7 linked regions of the Homo sapiens genome follow. The protein of the gene in region 7 interacts with the protein of the main gene of each other region in a biochemical or structural test. Each region holds a gene or a part of one and is shown on either strand. Other genes may lie near its edges.

The links.
Region 1: the proteins of GSK3B (region 7) and MUC1 form a complex in vitro, tested with the Homo sapiens proteins (2 studies listed by BioGRID).
Region 2: of the proteins of GSK3B (region 7) and MYOZ1, one has a biochemical effect on the other in vitro, tested with the Homo sapiens proteins (one study listed by BioGRID).
Region 3: of the proteins of GSK3B (region 7) and XIAP, one has a biochemical effect on the other in vitro, tested with the Homo sapiens proteins (one study listed by BioGRID).
Region 4: of the proteins of GSK3B (region 7) and NFE2L2, one has a biochemical effect on the other in vitro, tested with the Homo sapiens proteins (2 studies listed by BioGRID).
Region 5: of the proteins of GSK3B (region 7) and KLF5, one has a biochemical effect on the other in vitro, tested with the Homo sapiens proteins (2 studies listed by BioGRID).
Region 6: of the proteins of GSK3B (region 7) and KLF2, one has a biochemical effect on the other in vitro, tested with the Homo sapiens proteins (one study listed by BioGRID).

Annotation. Positions count from the first base shown.
Region 1 is NC_000001.11:155,187,620-155,189,915, reverse strand, and holds part of MUC1 (mucin-1 isoform 10 precursor), read left to right. Parts: coding exon of another isoform or gene 1-676; intron 677-981; coding exon of another isoform or gene 982-1,299; coding exon 1,300-1,753; intron 1,754-1,852; coding exon 1,853-1,908; intron 1,909-2,057; coding exon 2,058-2,194; intron 2,195-2,296. UniProt on the Homo sapiens protein: The alpha subunit has cell adhesive properties. Can act both as an adhesion and an anti-adhesion protein. May provide a protective layer on epithelial cells against bacterial and enzyme attack.
Region 2 is NC_000010.11:73,634,975-73,638,474, reverse strand, and holds part of MYOZ1 (myozenin-1), read left to right. Parts: intron 1-552; coding exon 553-731; intron 732-3,500. UniProt on the Homo sapiens protein: Myozenins may serve as intracellular binding proteins involved in linking Z-disk proteins such as alpha-actinin, gamma-filamin, TCAP/telethonin, LDB3/ZASP and localizing calcineurin signaling to the sarcomere.
Region 3 is NC_000023.11:123,866,553-123,870,052, forward strand, and holds part of XIAP (E3 ubiquitin-protein ligase XIAP), read left to right. Parts: intron 1-3,500.
Region 4 is NC_000002.12:177,229,808-177,233,727, reverse strand, and holds the end of NFE2L2 (nuclear factor erythroid 2-related factor 2), read left to right. Parts: intron 1-388; coding exon 389-478; intron 479-1,144; coding exon 1,145-1,336; intron 1,337-1,719; coding exon 1,720-2,943; 3' UTR 2,944-3,420; downstream 3,421-3,920.
Region 5 is NC_000013.11:73,069,005-73,072,504, forward strand, and holds part of KLF5 (Krueppel-like factor 5), read left to right. Parts: intron 1-3,500. UniProt on the Homo sapiens protein: Transcription factor that binds to GC box promoter elements. Activates the transcription of these genes.
Region 6 is NC_000019.10:16,323,496-16,327,625, forward strand, and holds the start of KLF2 (Krueppel-like factor 2), read left to right. Parts: upstream 1-1,330; 5' UTR 1,331-1,428; coding exon 1,429-1,503; intron 1,504-1,720; coding exon 1,721-2,537; intron 2,538-3,360; coding exon 3,361-3,536; 3' UTR 3,537-4,130.
Region 7 is NC_000003.12:120,087,948-120,091,447, reverse strand, and holds part of GSK3B (glycogen synthase kinase-3 beta), read left to right. Parts: intron 1-3,500. UniProt on the Homo sapiens protein: Constitutively active protein kinase that acts as a negative regulator in the hormonal control of glucose homeostasis, Wnt signaling and regulation of transcription factors and microtubules, by phosphorylating and inactivating glycogen synthase (GYS1 or GYS2), EIF2B, CTNNB1/beta-catenin, APC, AXIN1, DPYSL2/CRMP2, JUN, NFATC1/NFATC, MAPT/TAU and MACF1.

The sequences.
Region 1 (2,296 bases), on a different chromosome or scaffold from region 7:
CGGCCCCGGACACAAGGCCCGCCCCGGGCTACACCGCGCCCGCAGCCCACGGTGTCACCTCGGCCCCGGACACCAGGCCGGCCCCGGGCTCCACCGCCCCCCAAGCCCACGGTGTCACCTCGGCCCCGGACACCAGGCCGGCCCCGGGCTCCACCGCCCCCCCAGCCCACGGTGTCACCTCGGCCCCGGACACCAGGCCGGCCCCGGGCTCCACCGCCCCCCCAGCCCACGGTGTCACCTCGGCCCCGGACACCAGGCCGGCCCCGGGCTCCACCGCCCCCCCAGCCCACGGTGTCACCTCGGCCCCGGAGAGCAGGCCGGCCCCGGGCTCCACCGCGAGAGCAGCCCACGGTGTCACCTCGGCCCCGGAGAGCAGGCCGGCCCCGGGCTCCACCGCCCCCCCAGCCCACGGTGTCACCTCGGCCCCGGACACCAGGCCGGCCCCGGGCTCCACCGCCCCCCCAGCCCACGGTGTCACCTCGGCCCCGGACACCAGGCCGGCCCCGGGCTCCACCGCCCCCCCAGCCCACGGTGTCACCTCGGCCCCGGACACCAGGCCGGCCCCGGGCTCCACCGCCCCCCCAGCCCACGGTGTCACCTCGGCCCCGGACACCAGGCCGGCCCCGGGCTCCACCGCCCCCCCAGCCCACGGTGTCACCTCGGCCCCGGACACCAGGCCGTCCCCGGGCTCCACCGCGCCCGCAGCCCACGGTGTATATTTAAAACAGAGAGCAGGCCGGCCCCGGGCTCCACCGCGCCCGCAGCCCAGCTCACAGTGTCACCTCGGCCCCGGACACCAGGCCGGCCTCGGGCTCCACCGACACTCCAGCACACGGTGTCACCTCGGCCCCGGACAACAGACCGGCTCCGGGCTCCACCGCCCCCCCAGCCCACGGTGTCACCTCGGCACCGGACACCAGGCCGGCCCCCGGGCTCCACCGCCCCCCCAGCCCACGGTGTCACCTCGGCCCCGGACACCAGGCCGGCCCCGGGCTCCACCGCCCCCCCAGTCCACGGTGTCACCTCGGCCCCGGACACCAGGCCGGCACCGGGCTCCACCGCCCCCCCAGCCCACGGTGTCACCTCGGCCCCGGACACCAGGCCGGCCCCGGGCTCCACCGCCCCCCCAGCCCACGGTGTCACCTCGGCCCCGGACACCAGGCCGGCCCCGGGCTCCACCGCACCCCCAGCCCACGGTGTCACCTCGGCCCCGGACACCAGGCGGGCCCCGGGCTCCACCCCGGCCCCGGGCTCCACCGCCCCCCCAGCCCACGGTGTCACCTCGGCCCCGGACACCAGGCCGGCCCCGGGCTCCACCGCCCCCCCAGCCCATGGTGTCACCTCGGCCCCGGACAACAGGCCCGCCTTGGGCTCCACCGCCCCTCCAGTCCACAATGTCACCTCGGCCTCAGGCTCTGCATCAGGCTCAGCTTCTACTCTGGTGCACAACGGCACCTCTGCCAGGGCTACCACAACCCCAGCCAGCAAGAGCACTCCATTCTCAATTCCCAGCCACCACTCTGATACTCCTACCACCCTTGCCAGCCATAGCACCAAGACTGATGCCAGTAGCACTCACCATAGCACGGTACCTCCTCTCACCTCCTCCAATCACAGCACTTCTCCCCAGTTGTCTACTGGGGTCTCTTTCTTTTTCCTGTCTTTTCACATTTCAAACCTCCAGTTTAATTCCTCTCTGGAAGATCCCAGCACCGACTACTACCAAGAGCTGCAGAGAGACATTTCTGAAATGGTGAGTATCGGCCTTTCCTTCCCCATGCTCCCCTGAAGCAGCCATCAGAACTGTCCACACCCTTTGCATCAAGCCTGAGTCCTTTCCCTCTCACCCCAGTTTTTGCAGATTTATAAACAAGGGGGTTTTCTGGGCCTCTCCAATATTAAGTTCAGGTACAGTTCTGGGTGTGGACCCAGTGTGGTGGTTGGAGGGTGGGTGGTGGTCATGACCGTAGGGAGGGACTGGTGCACTTAAGGTTGGGGGAAGAGTGCTGAGCCAGAGCTGGGACCCGTGGCTGAAGTGCCCATTTCCCTGTGACCAGGCCAGGATCTGTGGTGGTACAATTGACTCTGGCCTTCCGAGAAGGTACCATCAATGTCCACGACGTGGAGACACAGTTCAATCAGTATAAAACGGAAGCAGCCTCTCGATATAACCTGACGATCTCAGACGTCAGCGGTGAGGCTACTTCCCTGGCTGCAGCCCAGCACCATGCCGGGGCCCCTCTCCTTCCAGTGTCTGGGTCCCCGCTCTTTCCTTAGTGCTGGCAGCGGGAGGGGC
Region 2 (3,500 bases), on a different chromosome or scaffold from region 7:
TGCAATCCCAGCGACCTGGGAGGCTGAGGCAGGAGAATTGCTTGAACCTGGGAGGCGGAGGCTGCAGTGAGCTGAGATCGCGCCATTCCACTCCAGCCTGGATGATAGAGCAGGACTCTGTCTCAAAAAAATGAAAAAAAAGAATAAAAAATAAAAACAAATATATATATATATATATATATGGCATCTGTATTTGGACTCCACACAAGATTGGCCTCTGGGTTTTTCCTGATGCCATGGTTTCTCCAATGGCCTCCATCTATGATGTTCCTTTACTCCTTTTGCTCTGTACCCCATGCCCGTACCTCTTTTACCCCATTGGCCTCTCCACTCTAGTATTCCCATTATCTCCACAGTGCACCCCAGTTCCCATGCATTCTCTCCAAGTCCCAGGAAATCAAAATCCCTCACAAACTAGACAGCATTTGTTCCCCTAAATGACCTCTGCCAGGACACACATACACACTTAGTTGTGGATGAGGTCTGCATTCTGAGCCCAGAAAACCCTACTTTCCTCTTTCCCTTGATTCTTCTTCTTTGCCTCCCTGAAAGGTGGACAGGAGAGCTCAGGCTTGAACCTGGGCAAAAAGATCAGTGTCCCAAGGGATGTGATGTTGGAGGAACTGTCGCTGCTTACCAACCGGGGCTCCAAGATGTTCAAACTGCGGCAGATGAGGGTGGAGAAGTTTATTTATGAGAACCACCCTGATGTTTTCTCTGACAGCTCAATGGTGAGTCTGGAACTTTATCACTATCTCAAAGCCTGGTGCCTGTTCTGACAGCTTGTTAGTAGGCCCTGAACCTCCAAAATGCAGTCAACATCCCCTCCCTGAAAATTTATAAATTTGTTAAACCCCCAGATATATTGAGCCCGCAACAGCTCCAGGGTGAGTTACAGCCCACCTCTGAAACCCAGTTTTCATCATAGAGCCACTGAAGGGTTGGAGAATACCACACCCTTAGGGAGAAAATTCCTTCCCAGTAAAGGTAAGTGTTAAAGATAGATTGCCAGATAAAACACAGGATGCCCAGTGGGGCAGTCCAGTCTTGTATTTTGAAGTTGAGATACACAATGAATAATTTTTTAGTGAAGTATGCTCCATGCAATATTTGGGACATAAAGATAAAAATTTAAAAAAATTTTAGAAAGAAGATAAGGCAGCCAGGCATGGTGGCTCACACCTGTAATCCCAGCACTTTGGGAGGCCGAGGCAGGTGGGTCACCTGAGGTCAGGAGTTTGAGACCAGCCTGGCCAACATGGTGAAACCCCCATCTCTACTAAAAATACAAAAAATTAGCTGGGCGTGGTCGTGGGTTCCTGTGATCCCAGGTACTCAGGAGGCTGAGGCAGGAGAATCACTTGAACCCAGGAGGTGGAGTTGCAGTGAGCCCAGATTGTGCCACTGCACTCCAGCCTGGGCAACAAGAGTGAAACTCTGTCTCAAAAAAAAAAAAAAAAGAAAGAAAAAAGAAAAAAGGAAGAAGATAAGGCAAAGAATAAAATTGAAATTTTAAAATACAGAATATACAATTAAATTTGAGTTTCAGATGCACAATGAATTCTTTTTTAAATATGTCCCATGCAATATTTGGGACATTAAAATAAAAATACAGGATGTCCACTTAAATTTGAATTTCAGATGCAAATGAATAATTTTTTTAGTATAAGTAAGTCCCAAGCAATATTTGGAGGCATATCTATACTAAAAAAGTATTTGGGTCAAGTGTGGTAGCTCACACCTGTAATCCCAGCACTTTGGGATGCCAAGGCAAGAGGACTGCTTGAGTCCAGGAGTTGGAGACCAGCCTGGGCAACATGGCAAGACTCTGTTTCTACAAAAAATTAAAAAGTTAGCTGGGTCTGGTGGCGCACACCTGTAATCCCAGCTACTCTGGAGGGTGAGGTGGGAGGATGGCTTGAGCCTGGAAGGTAGAGGATGCATGAACATGAGCCATGTTCACACCACTGCACTCCAGCCTGGGTGACAGAGAACCCATCTAAAAAAAAAAAATAAAAATTTGTTGTGCATCTGAAATTCAAATTTAAGTGGTATCCTATATTTGATTTGCTAAATCTGGCAACCCTAGAAAGAGTTAATTGAGTTTTTACAGCCACCTCCCATTTGAGCCATTCTTCCATTTAAAGGGTCAGTCTATTCCCTAAGAAGCCCCAGGTGTGGAGACTGAAACGGTCCTTCAAGATATATTCTAGTCAGGCTCCTTCTCCAAAGAAAGAGGAGACTGGAGAGGGGCCAGGCACAGGATGGTATAGCTGAGGAAGAAGGGCCTTCTCCATTTCCTTTCTTCCTCCTCCACCCTCTCTGAGTGGCTGGGGGAGAGTGGAAATAGATGCCTGCATGGGGCCGGGGGCAGAAGTGTCTGTCATTGGTCCTCATATAGGAGCAGAGTAAAAGTGCTGAGCTGCTCATATCTAACTTTAGGAGGCCAAAAGCACTCTTCTCTGCCTGGGTCTGGTTACACTGGGTGGAGCATTGGGGTGTACATGGTGGGATGGCCAGGAGAGCCTCCTGAAGAAGTTGGTGGGGTTATTTTTAGGCTTTGGGTTTGCATCTAATGTTGCCCTTTTGGCCACACTTCCCCCCACCTGCTACAGTGTCACTGTCACCAGTGAGGTCCAACAGGCACCAAGAGGAGAGAGGAAGAGAAAGAAGGAGAGAGAAGAGAGTTCTGACTGTTGGACAAGCTGAGGAAGGGAGGGGGCAGAATTTCTCTAGTCCTTGTAATTAAGACTGGGTGCTCCATGGCAACCCCATCCTCCCAAATTTTAGTTGGGGCTGGACACAGCTCATGCCTGTTATCTCAGCACTTTGGGAGGCTGAGGCAGATGGATCACTTGAGCCCAGGAGTTTGAGACCAGCCTGGGCACATGGCAAACCCTGTCTCTAGGAAAAAAAAAAATACAAAATTTAGCTGGGTGTGGTAGCATGCCAGTAGTCCCAGCTACTTGAGAGGCTGAGGTGGGAGGATTGCCTGAGCCAGGGAGGTGGAGGTTGCAGTGAGCCGAGATTGTGTCACTGCACTCCAACCTGGGTGACAGAGCCAGATTCTGTCTCAAAAAGCAAAAGAATTTTTTTTCATTTTTTTTTTTTAAAGCTGGGCAGGCGTGTTGGTCTTTTTTGACTTGTTAAGGATGAGAAAGGGGAGTGTGGAGAACACGCTGCCCTTACCCTAGGTATAACTGGAGGAAACGAGCCAAGGGAGTCCTACCTCTTAAGAAGAGTTTAATTCGGGCTGGGTGCGGTGGCTAACGCCTGTAATCCCGGCACTTTGGGAGGCCGAGGTGGGTGGATCATCTGAGGTCGGAGTTTGAGACCAGCCGGACCAACGTGCAGAAACCCCACCTCTACTAAAAATATATCAAATTAGCCGGGTGTGATGGTGCATGCCTGTAATCCCAGCTACTCGGGAGGCTGAGGCTGGGAATTGCTTGAACCTGGAAGGCTGAGGTTGCGGTGAGCCGAGATCGTGCCATCACACT
Region 3 (3,500 bases), on a different chromosome or scaffold from region 7:
TGTATGATATATATAATATAGTATATAATATATTACATGTATAATATATTATATATAATATATAATACAATATATGTAAAATATATATAATATATAACACAATATAATATGTAAAATATATTACATATATAATATATATATTTTTCAGACAGAGTCTAGCTCTGTCACCCAGGCTGGAGTGCAGTGGTGAGATCTTGGCTCACTGAACCTCCGCCTCCCAGGTTCAAGCGATTCTTCTGCCTCAGCCTCCCAAGTAGCTGGGACTACAGGTGTGCTACCACACCTGGCTTATTTTATTTTATGTATTTATTTATTTTTCTGAGACGGAGTCTTGCTCCTGACCTCATGTGATCTGCCCGCCTCGGCCTCCCAATGTGCTGGGATTCCAGGCATGAACCACCGTGCCTGGCCAGAGATATGTGTTTATTATAGAAAATTTATGAAATAGAATAATGACGATCATATTGTCTACAGGTTGTTTTAATCCCCCCCCCCCCTTCAACATTCTATAGTTAACATTTCTGTTTTTTTTTTTGAGACGGAGTCTCGCTCTGTCGCCCAGGCTGGAGTGCAGTGGTGCGATCTCAGCTCACTGCAACCTCCGCCTCCTGGGTTCATGCCATTCTCCTACCTCAGCCTCTCTAAGTAGCTGGGACTACAGGTGCCCGCCACCACGCCTGGCTAATGTTTTTGTATTTTTAGTAGAGACGGGGTTTCACCATGGTCTCCATCTCCTGACCTCGTGATTAGCCCGCCTCAGCCTCCCAAAGTGCTGGGATTACAAGTGTGAGCCACTGCGCCCAGCAGTCTTTTTTTTTTTTTTGGTTTGGTTTGGTTTTTTAGACAGAGTCTCACTCTGTCCCCCAGGCTGGAGTGCAGTGGCACAATCTCAGCTCACTGCATCTCCGCCTCCTGGGTTCAAGTGATTCTCCTGCCTGAGCCTCCTGAGTAGCTAGGATTATAGACATGTGCTACCACGCCCGGCTAATTTTTGTATTTTTAGTGGAGGCATGGTTTCCCCATGTTGGCCAGGCTAGTCTTGAACTCCTGACCTTGTGATCCGCCCGCCTTGGCCTCCCAAAGTATTGGGATTACAGGTGTGAGCCCCCGTACCTGGCCTTTTTTTTTTTTTTTTTTTGAGACGGAGTTTTGCTCATGTTGCCCAGGCTGGAGCGCATTGGTGCAATCTCAGCTCACTGCAACCTCTGCCTCCTGGGTTTAAGTGATTCTCCTGCCTCAGCCTCCCAAGTAGCTGGGATTACAGGCGCACGCACAACCATGCCCAGTTAATTTTTCTATTTTTAGTAGAGATAGTGTTTTACCATGTTGGCCAGGCTGGTCTCGAACTCCTGACCTCAGGTCATCCACCTGCCTTGGCCTCCCAAAGTCCTGGGATTACAGGCATGAGCCACTGCGCCCAGCCTGAAGTCTTTCAAAATACATTTTTTATTTATCCAGTGTATTATTTTATACTGCACTTTCTTCATCTGTAAAGTAACAGGGTCAGGCATGGTGACTCATACCTGTAAGCCCAGCACTTTGGGAGGCTGAGGTGGGAGGATTGTTTGAGACCAGCCTGGGCAACATCGTGAGACCCCGTCTCTACCAATAATAAAAAAATTAGCTGGATGTGATGGCACGCGCCTGTGAAGATCGCTTGAGCCCGGGAGGTCAAGGTGGCAGTGAGCCATGAGGGCACCACTGCATTCTAGCCTGAGTGACAAGAGTGAGGCCCTGTCTCAAAACAAACAAACAAGCAAACAAACAAACAAAAAACCCAGGGTGGCTGGGCTTAAGGACTAGTTGATTCCAACGATTCAAAACCCATTATAATAGTTTTTAAGCCTGATTATCTGAGATTTTGTCAAGGAAAAAAATTCCACATAACAATCCCAGGCCAGGCATGGTGGCTCATGCCTTTAATCCCAGCACTTTGGGAGGCCAAGTCAGGGAGATCCCTTGAGTCCAGGAGTTCAAGACCAGCCTGGGCAACATGGTAAAATGCTATCTCTACTAAAAATAGAAAAATTAACTGGGCATGGTTGTGCGTGCACCTGTAATCCCAGCTACTCTGGAGGCTGAGGTGGGAGGATCACTTGAGCCCAGGAGGTGGAGGTTGCAGTGAGTCAAGATCAGGGCACCCCATTCCAGCTTGGGGGACAGAGCAAGACCCTATCTCAAAAAACAAAAACAGGAATTTGAGGCCAAATTTATGGATTATATATTTTATCTGCTCTGTATGTGGTTAATAATAGGTTATCCTTTATATGATAAAAACATACTTATGTCCATTTTGCAGGACTTGGCATGGGCTTTTATTGTTTTAAATTGTGATACATTTGTAGCTCTGCTGTTTGATACATTTTGGGATTTGATTTTGGTATGATTTGGTACCCAGTCTTTGTTATGGATACATGTGATTCACCTTGTTATGATATAGTTTTATGTATTTTCGAGGATATGGGTCATAGTGAAAAGTCACGTTTACCTGTACAGACTGAGAATAGCTTGATCTCAGATGGTCAGATGTTGAACCAAGTGGATTAAAGCTGATTTCTTAAACCGGACAAGGCTGCTGCCATTGTGCATTCCCTGGTACTTATAAAATATTATGGTTTGAAATTTTATTCTTATTTCTGTAATCATCTTATTCACCTTAAATACAGAAATACAGACATCTGGCTGGGCGCAGTGGCTCACACCTGAAATCCCAGCACTTTGGGTGGCCGAGGCAGGTGGATCACTTGAGGTCAGGAGTTCAAGACCAGCCTGACCAACAGAGCAAAACCCCATCTCTACTAAAAAAATACAAAAAAAAAAAAAAAAAAAAAAGCTGGGTCATGCCTCTGCAATCCCAGCTACTTAGGAGGCTGAGGCAGGAAAATTACTTGAGCCTGGGAGGTGGAGGTTGCAGTGAGCTGAGATCATGCCACTGTACTCCAGCCTGGATGACAGAGTGAGACTCCATCTCAAAAATAAAGAAAAGAAAAAAAAAACACAGACATCTCAGCATATATTACCATGTGACTTAACCTTTCTATGGTTCTAGCTAATTTTTTAGGCCTTGAAAGGGAAGGAAGCCTAACATTTTCTGCTACCTCATTGGACTGTCCCTTCTGCCAGTAATCCTTGTAGTAATTTCCTTAGACCTATATTGGTCATAATCACTGGGTGCATGACCTTTGATGAGTAACAGTCAGAACTACTGTTTCCTCATATTTCAGATGAGGCCTATGATATATTATGTAGGTTAAATTAGATTCCATATATGAAAACATTCTAAATTGTAAAGCACATTACATATGTTAGTTATTATCAAAGGTAACATCGTGAAAGAAGAGAAGATGAGCTATAGAATCACACAAGCCCATGCTTAAATTTTGACCTTACATTAAACCAAAGAGGATTGATTTTTTTTTTTAATTGAGACGGAGTCTCGCTCTGTCGCTCAGGCTGGAGTGCAGTGGCGCAATCTCAGCTCACTGCAACCTCTGCCGCCC
Region 4 (3,920 bases), on a different chromosome or scaffold from region 7:
AGCAACAGAAGTAGTAGCAGGAGAACCAAGTAGCAGGGATTACTGGCGTTACTGTGTGTGGCAAGCACTGTTTTAAGAACATATACTGACTGATTTAATTAACACAACTATATTAATTAGTTACCATTATCCCTGTTTTATCTACGATGAGCAACTGAAGCTCACAAAGGTTAAATAATTTGCCCAGATCACTCAGAAAATTGGAGGAGCTAAGATCTGAACCCATGTGGTCTAGTTCAAATTGTGCATCAAAGTGATCTCTGAAATAAGATAAATATTTACTTAACTTGATTATAAATATTTTATGAACATCAATTATTGAATATTTAGCTTGGCAATGGAATATTTAACCATTTTTGTTTTCCTTTGTGTCATTCCCTTTTATCAGGTTGCCCACATTCCCAAATCAGATGCTTTGTACTTTGATGACTGCATGCAGCTTTTGGCGCAGACATTCCCGTTTGTAGATGACAATGAGGTGAGGTATAAAATAACCTGGTTAATAGAAAAACTCCATCATAACTATAAAATAACAATCTATTCTATGTAAGTCCCGTCAATGAATCTCCATTTAAAAGAATAAAAACATTTTTAGGAGGAAATTTTTTAACCAAGGAAATACTCTTGTCAAGGAAACCTTAGCCTATAAATAACTTTACAATTAAGAAAAAAAAAAACCCTTCACACAATACAAAACCAAAACCATTGACTATTGCATAGCCAGAAACATGGACAGCATAACCATGGAAACAAATAACCCATTTGCTGCAAGTATCTAAGAGGTTTGGTGAGTAAAGAGCCAGCTGGGCAATAAACGAAGACTTGTTCAGTTAACAATTTTAATAAATCTGTTTTATCTAGTACCACTGTGCTAGATATTATATAAACTAAATCCTAAAGATTGTACTTACGCATTTTAAAGTTTACTTTCAAATGCTTAAGCTGAAACAGACCAGCAAATTATAAATTTGAGTCAGTGGGGTAGGAAAAAAAGATTTGTTATTTACAAACGGGGTCATGACTGGTTAGTAAGTAGAGAGACACAGAACTGCAGCTGATTCCATTTTGTTTTGTAGTGGTGCCTTAGAGCTTACTCATCCCCTGTTGGTGGAAGACTCATAAATCAATGCCTTATCAATTTTAGGTTTCTTCGGCTACGTTTCAGTCACTTGTTCCTGATATTCCCGGTCACATCGAGAGCCCAGTCTTCATTGCTACTAATCAGGCTCAGTCACCTGAAACTTCTGTTGCTCAGGTAGCCCCTGTTGATTTAGACGGTATGCAACAGGACATTGAGCAAGTTTGGGAGGAGCTATTATCCATTCCTGAGTTACAGGTAACTAAAATAGAATGTAATACTGGAGATTTTTTTTATATTCAGTGCCTTTAGTCATTCTGATTATTTATATACCACCTATTTATAGGAAGGATTGGAGGGTGCTATTAACTTAGTCATGAGTACTGCCCATGCTAGTTAAATTGGTTGGACATCTTGAGGATAGAATGTTATAAACCTGACGTCTGATCTGGGAACTCTGAAAATAATACATAACGCTTAGGCGTAAATATGTATTGGAAATGAGAATTATCTCTGAATTATAGATAATAAATTATAGAGATAAGCCTGAAGATAATGTGGGTAGGGAGTTTATCTAAATTTATCACGTATTATCATGGATTAACTTTGATTTATATAGTATAAACTTCCTTCTCATGCAGTGTCTTAATATTGAAAATGACAAGCTGGTTGAGACTACCATGGTTCCAAGTCCAGAAGCCAAACTGACAGAAGTTGACAATTATCATTTTTACTCATCTATACCCTCAATGGAAAAAGAAGTAGGTAACTGTAGTCCACATTTTCTTAATGCTTTTGAGGATTCCTTCAGCAGCATCCTCTCCACAGAAGACCCCAACCAGTTGACAGTGAACTCATTAAATTCAGATGCCACAGTCAACACAGATTTTGGTGATGAATTTTATTCTGCTTTCATAGCTGAGCCCAGTATCAGCAACAGCATGCCCTCACCTGCTACTTTAAGCCATTCACTCTCTGAACTTCTAAATGGGCCCATTGATGTTTCTGATCTATCACTTTGCAAAGCTTTCAACCAAAACCACCCTGAAAGCACAGCAGAATTCAATGATTCTGACTCCGGCATTTCACTAAACACAAGTCCCAGTGTGGCATCACCAGAACACTCAGTGGAATCTTCCAGCTATGGAGACACACTACTTGGCCTCAGTGATTCTGAAGTGGAAGAGCTAGATAGTGCCCCTGGAAGTGTCAAACAGAATGGTCCTAAAACACCAGTACATTCTTCTGGGGATATGGTACAACCCTTGTCACCATCTCAGGGGCAGAGCACTCACGTGCATGATGCCCAATGTGAGAACACACCAGAGAAAGAATTGCCTGTAAGTCCTGGTCATCGGAAAACCCCATTCACAAAAGACAAACATTCAAGCCGCTTGGAGGCTCATCTCACAAGAGATGAACTTAGGGCAAAAGCTCTCCATATCCCATTCCCTGTAGAAAAAATCATTAACCTCCCTGTTGTTGACTTCAACGAAATGATGTCCAAAGAGCAGTTCAATGAAGCTCAACTTGCATTAATTCGGGATATACGTAGGAGGGGTAAGAATAAAGTGGCTGCTCAGAATTGCAGAAAAAGAAAACTGGAAAATATAGTAGAACTAGAGCAAGATTTAGATCATTTGAAAGATGAAAAAGAAAAATTGCTCAAAGAAAAAGGAGAAAATGACAAAAGCCTTCACCTACTGAAAAAACAACTCAGCACCTTATATCTCGAAGTTTTCAGCATGCTACGTGATGAAGATGGAAAACCTTATTCTCCTAGTGAATACTCCCTGCAGCAAACAAGAGATGGCAATGTTTTCCTTGTTCCCAAAAGTAAGAAGCCAGATGTTAAGAAAAACTAGATTTAGGAGGATTTGACCTTTTCTGAGCTAGTTTTTTTGTACTATTATACTAAAAGCTCCTACTGTGATGTGAAATGCTCATACTTTATAAGTAATTCTATGCAAAATCATAGCCAAAACTAGTATAGAAAATAATACGAAACTTTAAAAAGCATTGGAGTGTCAGTATGTTGAATCAGTAGTTTCACTTTAACTGTAAACAATTTCTTAGGACACCATTTGGGCTAGTTTCTGTGTAAGTGTAAATACTACAAAAACTTATTTATACTGTTCTTATGTCATTTGTTATATTCATAGATTTATATGATGATATGACATCTGGCTAAAAAGAAATTATTGCAAAACTAACCACTATGTACTTTTTTATAAATACTGTATGGACAAAAAATGGCATTTTTTATATTAAATTGTTTAGCTCTGGCAAAAAAAAAAAATTTTAAGAGCTGGTACTAATAAAGGATTATTATGACTGTTAAATTATTTGTTTGGGATTCCTTTGAGTTTATTCACACAGTATTTTCCATAAGATAATCATCCATTTAATTTAGATGTTTTGCATTTTCAGAATGTTTTATTTGAAAATATAAAAATAATTTTATACTACATTTCTAGTACCAGGGTTACAGAGAAATAAAGTATATCAAGAGGATACTTTGCCTCTTCAATAGCAGGTACATCTAAACCCAAGAAAATGTTACACACTGACATGAAAGCACTGATTCATTTATTTCCATCAGTAGACATACGCCCACTATACCCTAGGCAGAGTTTGAAGTAGAAAGGACAAAACCAATATCCCTGCCTGGCCTGGAACTTGCATTCTAGCGAAGGGGAGGTAACAAGCATACTCCACTATGTTAGAAGGAACTGGACGGGGAAAACCAGTAAAAAGCGTCACAACTTAAGGCTGTAAATGGGAAGAGCCTTACTGAAGTGGCAACATTTGAAGGTGTGGGAGAAGCTGTTCTCATAGCCAA
Region 5 (3,500 bases), on a different chromosome or scaffold from region 7:
AGAATTGCTTGAACCTGGGAGGCAGAGGTTGTGGTGAGCCAAGATCATGCCACCACACTCCAGCCCGGACAACAGAGCAAGACTCCATCTGAAAAAATAATAATAATAAAAAATAAAAAATCGATAATATTGACAATAAAGATATTTTCATTGCAGGTACTTACTAAAAGCAACATTCAGTGTTCTGAACATAAGTTACTCTTCTTTTTGTGGAACTGTGGGAAAAGGGTAAAAGGCTTTTTAGGAAAACTGTATACAAAGGTTTTCACTCTGGGCCTTAATGGATGGAGATCTTACAATGTGAATCGAGAAATAATAGTGGTTAAATGTGTAACCTGTTTTATTGGTAGAGATAACACAGGCAAAATCTTTTTTGCAGGAAGAGATTTAGGACTCAGTGGTTTTTTGAGTCTCTATTTGAAAACTATTGCAGAGGAAGTATCACATTTATTAGCCTTTAGTATTAGATTTTATTAAACATTCTTTTCATTCTTTTCCATTTTTTTTTCATTTGCAGCTTTGAAATTTATTTTGTGTATTGATAATTTCAAACAATTTTTTTTTAAAGTAGTAGCTTAAGAGACTTGCTGGTTCAGACCCCAGGAAAGGTATTTATGAGCATGAAAGCTTAGAAGCAATTTCTTTTTAATGACTCACTGGGAAGATTAAACTTTGCTTCTAGGACTTGTTCTTTCTTCTGAGAAACATTTACATAGGAAATTGATTAAACATTGTTTAGAGATGATAAAGCTTATCAAAAGTTAAGTATAATTTGATTCAGCAAATATTTTTTACTGGTTTTGTGGAGAATCCAAAGATGAATAATCTCTTCTTGCCCTTTTGTTCATAGACTAAATAGAATTGCTGGAGTGGAGATAGAAATAATTAGTCTTGAAAGTAGAGAGTAATGTTTTTAAAAAATAATAATACAGTCACCCAAGAATTTGGCAGATATTTTTGGTTCTATAGAATGTAGTAGCTGTTTACTTGATGGCCTACATCGTTTCTAGTGAAAGATTAGAAATAATGTCCTACTTTAGTAAAAGTATCTCCGTAGCAGCATTCCTAGTCTGTTAGCCAGTATTATTTATATTCAAGGATCTCAAACAACAACTCTTATTAAGGATAAGTTACAGTTTTAGAAGTGCACAGTAGGTAACTTTTACCTAAAAATATCTATATAGAAGAATAAATTTATTTTTGGCTACTTTATGAAAAGGTAAACCTTTACGAGTTGGGAGGAGACCTACTGGTCAGGGTCACCATGTGAAGTGCAAATTAAAGGGAAGGTTATCTAGTACTCATTCCATACTGGGAAAAAATGAAAATAGAGGATTTTTCTGTTTTGCTTACAAAAAGAAAAGGTGAAATTCCTCATTGACACTTTAACGTCAGTGCGAACTCCCATTATAAGAAAGTGAATCCGAGTGTTGTCTCGTTATCAGGAGACGGAAGAATTGGTATTTGATTTCATTAACTCTATTAATGACAGGGGATAGTCTTCATAATGTTTACTGGGAACCCAGAGGAGAAGTAGCAGTAGTTTAGGAGCCCAGAGATTCCAAATCTCTGCTAGGATGTAGACTGTAAGTGTAACCCCTGACATCGTGATCCCACCCATTCCCTCTCTGGGTTTGGCAGATCAGTGCTTTCTGGCCCTGGGAGAAGTCCCCTCGCTGCCTTTGACCAGTGCTAGGGGCTCTAGTATGTCTTGGCTTTCCTGAAGTCCAGTCCAGTTCTACCTAAGACAATTTGTTTAAACAGAGTTTATCCCTGTATAACTTCAGAATGGACAATAACTCATTCGATTATTTTCTCTGGAAGTGGCTCAAAACATGGTTCTCACCTAAATGCGTATTACCAGATTACTCTCAGTGGTCCTGGGCAGGGCAAAGCCAGGCAAAAGCCCTGCTGCAGGAGGGTCCACAGAAGAATAAAAAGCTGACAGCCTCACAAGAACCTTTTATGCCTTCCCTCCTTTTCTTTAATCAGAATAACTGAGTTGTTTTCAAGATGCATTAGGGAAAGTGTGGCATTACAGCAGGAATAGAAGATAGTCTCTGCCCTTGAGGAACTTTAAAAGCTAGTTAAGGAGGCAAAATACAACTATTTGAAGCCTTCCTAAAGCAGTATATGTGCAAGTGCAAATTGATAGCTCAACAGAAATTTCAGTGATGGGGATACAGAGAAGTGAAATGATCTCTCCTGGTCTGTTCAGAGGCTTTCTAGAAGGAGTGAGGTATCGGATTTTAAAGAAAGTGATAAATATAAATTGAGGAGAGAAAGGAATTTCTCTTTTGTTGCTTTTGTTTTTGTTTTTGGCAATCAGCTTCCTTAGGTTGAATGGGCACAATATTGATGGTGTTATCTGGTAAATAATTAGATGCATTTACAAATGCTAATAATACTAATCTTTGATATGGACCTTCTGTTCCAAGTATAGGAAATGTGTGACAATGAGTTTTAATAGAAAGGTTTTTGATGGAAAATTACTGGCATAGACGTAAAAATATGAATTAGTGAGCTAAAATCATCCTCCTACTTTATCTCTTTTCTTAGATATCTAAATCATTTTCCTATGAATTTCTTTAATAAGTGTTTCCTATTTTTCTCCCTTTTGATTTTTAGAAGCAAATCTAATATGAGCCTATTTCAGAGACTAAATTTCGTAAGTCTCAAATGATGGGAAAAATCTAATTATTATTGAATTGCATGAAAATATTTTCCTCTTGAAATAAGAGCCCATTTTGAGCTTCAAGGACTCTTAAGTTCTAAGAGTTTAGATTAGGTTGAAATAATTTATTCTACTTTAAAAGTTTGGATTGTTTAGGTTCGCAGAACAAGATACAAGATTTTAAGTTCTTTGAGGCCAGAAACCAAGTCTTATTTGAGTTTTGCAAGGCATTTAGTACAGGTTACACCTTCACTAATAAACAGTGACTTTAATTCTCATGATATTTTAGCTTTATCAGATATTGATTGAGTTGTCTTTTAGTCACCAGGAAGGAAACCGATGTGTAAATTTGCTGCAATAAACTTTTAAAACATTATCTAAAATAACTATTTTAAGATAAATATTTTATCAGTGATTTTTATTCTTTTGTTAGAAGAATCTATGTAGAACATTTTAGGGAAAGGCCTTGGTATGTCTATTGAATGTGTTCAGCAGAGCAGAGAAACTTCCCATTCCATTGTGATAGGTTCAGAAGTCATTCAGAGGGGGGAAAAAAAAGGACAATTTTCAGTTTGTTGCTGAGGATTTTTAAAATGGCTTACAAACATGTTCCACTAACCCACTGAAATTCACTTACCCTGGGGGAAAGGAGCTATCGTTAGGTGATACCTGGGAATTGGCAATACCTGAACAGTGCTCAGGACCCCACAGGCCCCACAGAGGCTGGCACTGCCAGGTTGTGCTCTCTGTTTCAGATCGTCTGGGGTTCAAGGCTTGCTGTGAGTCCATTAAGCCATTCCTTAGCTGACCTTCGCAAGTGGCTTTA
Region 6 (4,130 bases), on a different chromosome or scaffold from region 7:
ATGAATAAACCTCTATCCTTCCCTCCTTCACTAAAGTGGAGGTCCCCTAGGGCAGGGATCTTGTCTATCTCTTGGTTACTGTGTCCCCAGTGCCTACCCAGGGCTGGCAGACAGTTGTAACAGGAGTGACAGTCCCTGGCCAGCAGGGATATGGTGTGGGGGACAGAGGTGGAGCATTGAAGGGACCCATTGGGCAGCATTGTCCTCTGATGCCCCCGATGCTGGAGCTGTATTGGGGGAATGACTGTCATCACCGTCCTCTGAGTTACTTAATTCATTTATGGAAGTCAGTAAAGGAACCCAGCCTGCCTGTGCCTGCCGCAACTCCAACTTCTCCCAGCCACCTCTGCCTCAGTTTCCCTGCACTTGACGGGCTTATTGAGGTTGGGGAGGAGGGGGTGGGTGTCTCAAATGTCAAAGATTTAATGTGTCTTGATGTTACCACACAAAAGTTTTGTTTTGTTTGTTTTTTTGAGACAGTCTCCTCTGTCACCCAGGCTGGAGTGTAGTGGTGTGATTGTATCTCACTGCAGCCTCGACCTCCTGGGCTCAAGCGATCCTCCCACCTCAGCCTCCCACTACACCCAGCTAATTTTTTTTATTTTTTAAGAGATGGGGGCCACTGTGTTGCCCAGGCTGGTCTTGAACTCCTGGCCTCGAGTGATCCTCCTGTCTCAGCCTCCCAAAGCGGTGGGATTACAGATGTGACCCACTGCACCAGGTCTACACAAGGTGTTTTTTTTTACAGGGTGATGTGCACACGGTGGGTCCCTCTGGGTGGTCCCACAACAGATGAGGGGCCCAGCCTCACCCATCCATGAATCCTGGAGACTCCAGACTTCCCATCCATCCAGGGTTCTGCAGCCCTCTCTGAGGCTGGAGCCAATCTCCCCTTCCGTCAAGGGATCCGGGGAGACCGCCAAGCCCGGTGCTCCCCTGAGAGTCTCTGAGAGGCCCCGACACCGCCCCCGCTCCAGGTCCCCGGGATGCTCGCGCAGGCGGGAGCCCGGGGCGCCCGGGGGATCCCTGAGCGTCACGCCGCTGTTGTGGAGCGCGTGTTGACAACGTCGCCGGGGAGACGGGCGGGGGCGGGGCCCGGGAGAGGGGGAGGCGCGGCCCTGGCGGCGCGCGAGGGGCCGGGCTGTCAGCGCAAGGCCCAGGCCGCCGCAGTGGCCACGGCCGCTGCCGCCCGCCGGCTTATATACCGCGGCTAAATTTAGGCTGCGCCCGGAGCTCGTCCCCATCCGGGACGCGTTTCCGCCGCCGCCGCTTTGGCCCGGCCCCCGCGCGCGCCGCGCCTATAAGGCTTGGGCGGGCCCGGCCGCGGCCCACAGAGCCGTCCCCGCCCGCCCGCGCCCCGACCAGCCCGGCCTCGGGCAGCCACTCACCGGTGTCCCCGTCCGCGTCCTTTCTCCCCGGGTCCCGGCCATGGCGCTGAGTGAACCCATCCTGCCGTCCTTCTCCACTTTCGCCAGCCCGTGCCGCGAGCGCGGCCTGCAGGAGGTGAGGGCGGCGGGGACGGCGGGGCGGCCGGGACCGTGGGCGGCGGGCTCGGGGTAGTAGAACGTGGGCTGCGGGGTGACAGGACGCGAAGGCGGGGACTGCAGACTCAGGAGAGGAGGATGCGGGCCACGGGGATCGCGGACTTAGGGTGGTAAAAGGCAAGCAGCGCCCCCCGAGCCCCGCCGCCCGCTCACGCCCATTGCCCTGTCGCCCGCAGCGCTGGCCGCGCGCCGAACCCGAGTCCGGCGGCACCGACGACGACCTCAACAGCGTGCTGGACTTCATCCTGTCCATGGGGCTGGATGGCCTGGGCGCCGAGGCCGCCCCGGAGCCGCCGCCGCCGCCCCCGCCGCCTGCGTTCTATTACCCCGAACCCGGCGCGCCCCCGCCCTACAGCGCCCCCGCGGGTGGCCTGGTGTCTGAGCTGCTGCGACCCGAGCTGGATGCGCCGCTGGGGCCCGCACTGCACGGCCGCTTTCTGCTGGCGCCGCCCGGCCGCCTGGTCAAGGCCGAGCCCCCTGAAGCGGACGGCGGCGGCGGCTACGGCTGCGCCCCCGGGCTGACCCGTGGACCGCGCGGCCTCAAGCGCGAGGGCGCCCCGGGCCCGGCGGCTTCGTGCATGCGAGGTCCCGGGGGCCGCCCCCCGCCGCCGCCCGACACACCGCCGCTCAGCCCCGACGGCCCCGCGCGCCTGCCCGCGCCCGGTCCGCGCGCCTCCTTCCCGCCGCCTTTCGGTGGCCCTGGTTTCGGCGCGCCCGGGCCCGGCCTGCATTACGCGCCGCCTGCGCCCCCAGCCTTCGGTCTCTTCGACGACGCGGCCGCCGCCGCGGCAGCCCTGGGCCTGGCGCCCCCCGCCGCCCGCGGTCTCCTCACGCCGCCTGCGTCCCCGCTGGAGCTGCTGGAGGCCAAGCCAAAGCGCGGCCGCCGCTCTTGGCCCCGCAAACGCACCGCCACTCACACCTGCAGCTACGCGGGCTGCGGCAAGACCTACACCAAGAGTTCGCATCTGAAGGCGCATCTGCGCACGCACACAGGTGGGCGGCACGCACGAGCCAGGAGCGCAGGCGGGGGGACGCGGGAGGAGAGGTCGGATTCCCAGCGCGCGCCAGAAAATGAATTTAGGACCTCCCTTGGGGCGTGGCTCAGGGGGATCTGGCAGGTGGTGCACGCTTAGGACTCCCCAGGAGGCGTGGCTCGGGAGGTTGGTTGGGGGGGCACACAGGAACACTCCCTAAGGAAGTGTGATCCGAGAGGTTGGGGTGGGGGCTTGCACGCTTAGGACGAGGGGGGCCTCCGGAGGTTGGGAAGAGCACTTAGAAAACCTCCTGGAGGCGTGGCTAGGGAGACAGTCTCAGAAAGTTGGGGAGGGGGAGCAGGTTTAGGAGCCGCTGGGCACTTGGCTCAGAATCCCCGGGGCTGAGGCTCAGGTAGTTGGGGAGTAGGTGCGCGTTTAGGAACCCCGGGGAGATGCTGCGTCTCAGGAAGTTGGGGAGGGCGCTCAGGCTTGGGACTCCTCTGGGGACAAGGCTCAGGACCTTGGGGAGGGAGTGTTCGCTGGGAAACCTTGAGAGATTCCGTGTCTTAGAATGCTGGAGAGAGGGTGCATGCTTAGGACCCGTCGGGGAGCGTGGCTGACAACAGTGGGGAGTGGACCTTGCGCTCCTCCGACCCCCTGGGGGTGAGGATCCGGATTGTGGGGGGAGTTGGGGATGTAGGGCAAGGATCCCTCAGGGGCGCAACACTACCGCGGGGAGCGCGTCAAGGCCCTGGTTAGGGATAGGTTGCGCTCGCCGGGGTAGCCATACGTGCCCTGTCCTGGGAGGGGAACTGACGCTTACTCTCGCCCCCTCCCTGCAGGTGAGAAGCCCTACCACTGCAACTGGGACGGCTGCGGCTGGAAGTTTGCGCGCTCAGACGAGCTCACGCGCCACTACCGAAAGCACACGGGCCACCGGCCATTCCAGTGCCATCTGTGCGATCGTGCCTTCTCGCGCTCCGATCACCTGGCGCTGCACATGAAACGGCACATGTAGCCGGGACGCCCCCGCCCACCTGCGCGCGGCCGTGGCGGGTCCCACGCGCCGGGCGCGGCCCCCTCCCAAACTGTGACTGGTATTTATTGGACCCAGAGAACCGGGCCGGGCACAGCGTGGCTACAGAGGGTCTCCCTCGATGACGACGACGACGACGCCACCACCCCAGCCCCCGTCTGTGACTGAAGGCCCGGTGGGAAAAGACCACGATCCTCCTTGACGAGTTTTGTTTTTCAAAATGGTGCAATAATTTAAGTGGCATCTTCTCTCCCACCGGGTCTACACTAGAGGATCGAGGCTTGTGATGCCTTGTGAGAAATAAGGGCCTTAATTTGTACTGTCTGCGGCATTTTTTATAATATTGTATATAGTGACTGACAAATATTGTATTACTGTACATAGAGAGACAGGTGGGCATTTTTGGGCTACCTGGTTCGTTTTTATAAGATTTTGCTGGGTTGGTTTTTTTTTTAATTAAAAAGTTTTGCATCTTTTAAAAAAAATCACAGCACTGGTCTGGTTGCTTGGAACTGGGGCCTTGGGGCACTTGGGAGGAGGGGGGAGCGGAGAGTTTGATGGAGGGCAGCCCCACTA
Region 7 (3,500 bases):
ACTAACTAAGGATGGAGTAACTCTTGTAAAATATATAGATGAAAATGTTTAATTCCGATTACCATATAGGTCAATTTAGAATTTTAAAAGTTGGAGTTTAGTGTTAATTATGTGTTTTTGACAGCTTTGACTTTAAAAGCATTTAAAAGAAAGGGGAGTCTTTAAGCATTTGTTAGGATGCTAGCATTCTAAGGAACCCCTGTTGAAAACAGACATAAGAAATTGTAGTCCTTGCTCTCAAAAGCTTATCCTTTAGTTGTAGAGGGAGGCTATGGGGAAAAAAAAATTAAAACAATAGCGTGATGACTGCAAGATTGTAAAATACAAATTGAATCATTTGTTCAGAGTGGCAAAGAGTAAAGGGGTGAGACTGATGGTTGGGAGAGGAAAGACTTCCTGCGGACAAGGTGTATTAGGACTGATGTTAAAGGAGGTGGTAACTTGAACTGGTAGAAAAGCATGAAAGGTCTAGGTGGAAGGAGTGTACCAAGGAACAATGATGGTGAGTTTTGCATGAGAGACAATAATCAAGTTGACAAATCTGAATTAAAGGGGCCTAAATAAGAACATAAGAACAGATGGAATTTGAGAAATAAGAGAAAGTTAGCTGATGGAGGGCAGAGGGGTTCTGTACAAGTTTGATTGAGATTCAGAAGAGATCTGGATTTATTGTTGGTTGCTGAATAAGACGTAAGATGATTTTTGCAGTTGAATTAGTGAATTATAGTAGAGAGATGCTAGAGCCTTTTTAGGGAGCTAGTAGGGTATGTTGTGAATCATGAGGGAATAAAGTAAAATGTGAAAGTGGGGTGAAAGGAACAGGTTTGAGAGACAGTGTGAATGAAGAACTGGCAGAACTTCATACTGGACTGAAGTGGAATATTTGTGAAGGAGTCAAGAGTTAAAAATAAATTCTGATGTTACTGGCCTGGAAGACTTGACTGCTAAGTTATATTGTTAATTGTAATGGGAAAATTGAGAAAGTGCTGAGGTGAGAGGGTAGGTGAGTTCACTTTCTTAAAATTTAATATACAATAAGTTCCCTTGAAATTCAGACAGCAGTTAGTTACTGGCAATGATATTTGACTTCCTAGTCTATTAATTGCACAGTTTCTAATTTTTCTACACCTAAAGATGTTGGATTTATATTCGGGAGCAGTAAACTAAGGGCTTTTATTTAAATGCTTCTCATCAAAGTCCTAATTTTTTTTTTTTTTATATACAGCTTCAAAAGCCTCACACTTGAAACCTGGTTATAATAGTTTCATGATGGCTTATTTCAGATCAATGAAAATACTTTTGGGACTAAACTGTGACTGTAACATTTTAGATATGTAGCCATTAATCTTTGATATATGCTTAAAACTTGTTTTTTATAAATAATGATTATTACTATTATTTTAAATGCAAAATTTATCTAAGAATAAAGTATTGAGAGCCTTCACTTTGTGAAGACTCCAGAAGAAATTAAAAGTTGATTTTATAACAAGTATTTTTTGCCCTTTTTGTTGAGTTTAGGCATTAATCCCAAATTTAAATCAGTATATTTGAAATACTACTTTTTACTTGCTATAGTGAAACCAATGTTTCATTTTTGTTCACTTCCAAGTTTACATGTAATTAAATAAATGTTTATAAAGTTTTTCTTTAGAATCACATGATATTTTACTCCATAGGGAAAGTAAGGGACTGTTTGTGGCACTTTTGGTTAAAATATTAGTAATCCTTTTGGTATATACAATTGGAGAAAATTTAGCTAGTTGTTTAGGTTTAATACTTAAATATAAGATTTAGAAATATGAAAATAAGTCTGTATCACTTAAGTTGTTTCCTCATATAAAACTTTTTTAGATCAAAATTTCTATTAGCAAAGAGAGAATAATAGTAGCTGCATATTATTCTGCAGTATTACGTCGTATGGTGATTAAAGCCAAAGAGTAGGTAGCAACTTAGAGTTTCCGTATTCCCCTGGGAAGTTTAATCTCTTTATGACATCTAAAAATTAGGTTATTAGAGTTTAGTCCATTTCTTGATAATCCTGTGTTAATGTGGAAAAGAGTTCATGTGTGAGACTGAAAACCAGAACTTTATTTTCAGTCATTTCCCAACCCGACTTCCCCAGAGTTGTTAAAACGTTTAAGATATTTAAGAATTGCATGCTTTCTTGTTGCATGCACCTGTAGAATGCTAATTGTGAAGTGACAGTAAGTCACAGGCAAAAGGAAAAACTTCAAGGGAACCCAGTGATTCACAAATCACCTTATGGCTGATTGGGAACTGCATTTAGAAAATGAGGTGACATCTTCTCATTTCACTGGCAAAGTTCAGCTGAAAATCAGTACTTGCACGCTTTACTGTGTAGCCCTTATATTAGAATTGAGTTGCAGGTGTGAGATAATATTTTGGAGAAACAGCAAGGCTGGGAAAGTCAGAGATTTTATTCCAGCAGCAGAGTCTAAAGAGTGGGAGAGCTCTATTTGTGTGTGCACTTTATGCATAGAGAAGGCTGTGAAACATGCATATGTTGACCCTATTGTCACAGTTCCATACTTTTAAATAAGACCCATGAAGTTGAGACAGGGTTGGAGATGACAGACAGGATGTGAGATTGTGGTGCTTCTTGTGATGCTCCACCCTATAATGGAGAATGGAGGGGCAGAACGCTTGTGTGGGTGAGACAAGAGTGTGTGTTGGTACTAACAGGACCAACCGGGTTCCCCGGATATTGTTCTTCTAAGAACATAATCACCATAAGTAAATTAATTTGTTGGAATGTTTATCATTTTCTAGCTGATTTTTTGTGTGTGTGTGTGGGGTGGTGGTGGTGGAAGGGGAGTTTTCCCCGATTTCAAGAATAAAAGCATTTTCATTGTTCAGAAGAAGAGCATTTTCATTAAAGCGGAGGTTGCACTCTTGGCATTTTATCTTGAGTTATACAAATCATCCTTGGTTATACAAATCAAATTGCTTTTGAAATTTGTTGAGTGTAATGTATAAATGTATATTTATATAAAAACCTATGTGAATAGAACAGCAAGGAAAAACTGAGTAGAGTTAAAGAAGTTTGTTTTCCCTGAGATTTTCTGCCTTTAAATTTATATAAAAAAGGAATATTCCATTTTACGTTATTGAGTTTTCTATTTTTTTAAATGAGCTAATACTCAGTACATAATGGACATTTTTAGTAAATTATTCCAATATACTTGTGTCTGTAATGCATTTGATGTGGTATAAGATTTAGAAACACAATTTAGTTCGGCTGGCACGGTGGCTCACGCCTGTAATCCCAGCACTTTGGGAGGCCGAGGCGGGTGGATCACGAGGTCAGGAGATCAAGACCATCCTGGCCAACGTGGGGAAACCCCGTCTCTACTAAAAATACAAAAATTAGCGGGGGCGTGGTGGTGTGCGTCTGTAGTCCCAGCTACTCAGGAGGCTGAGGCAGGAGAATCGTTTGAACCCATGAGGCGGAGATTGCAGTGAGCTGAGATCGTGCCACT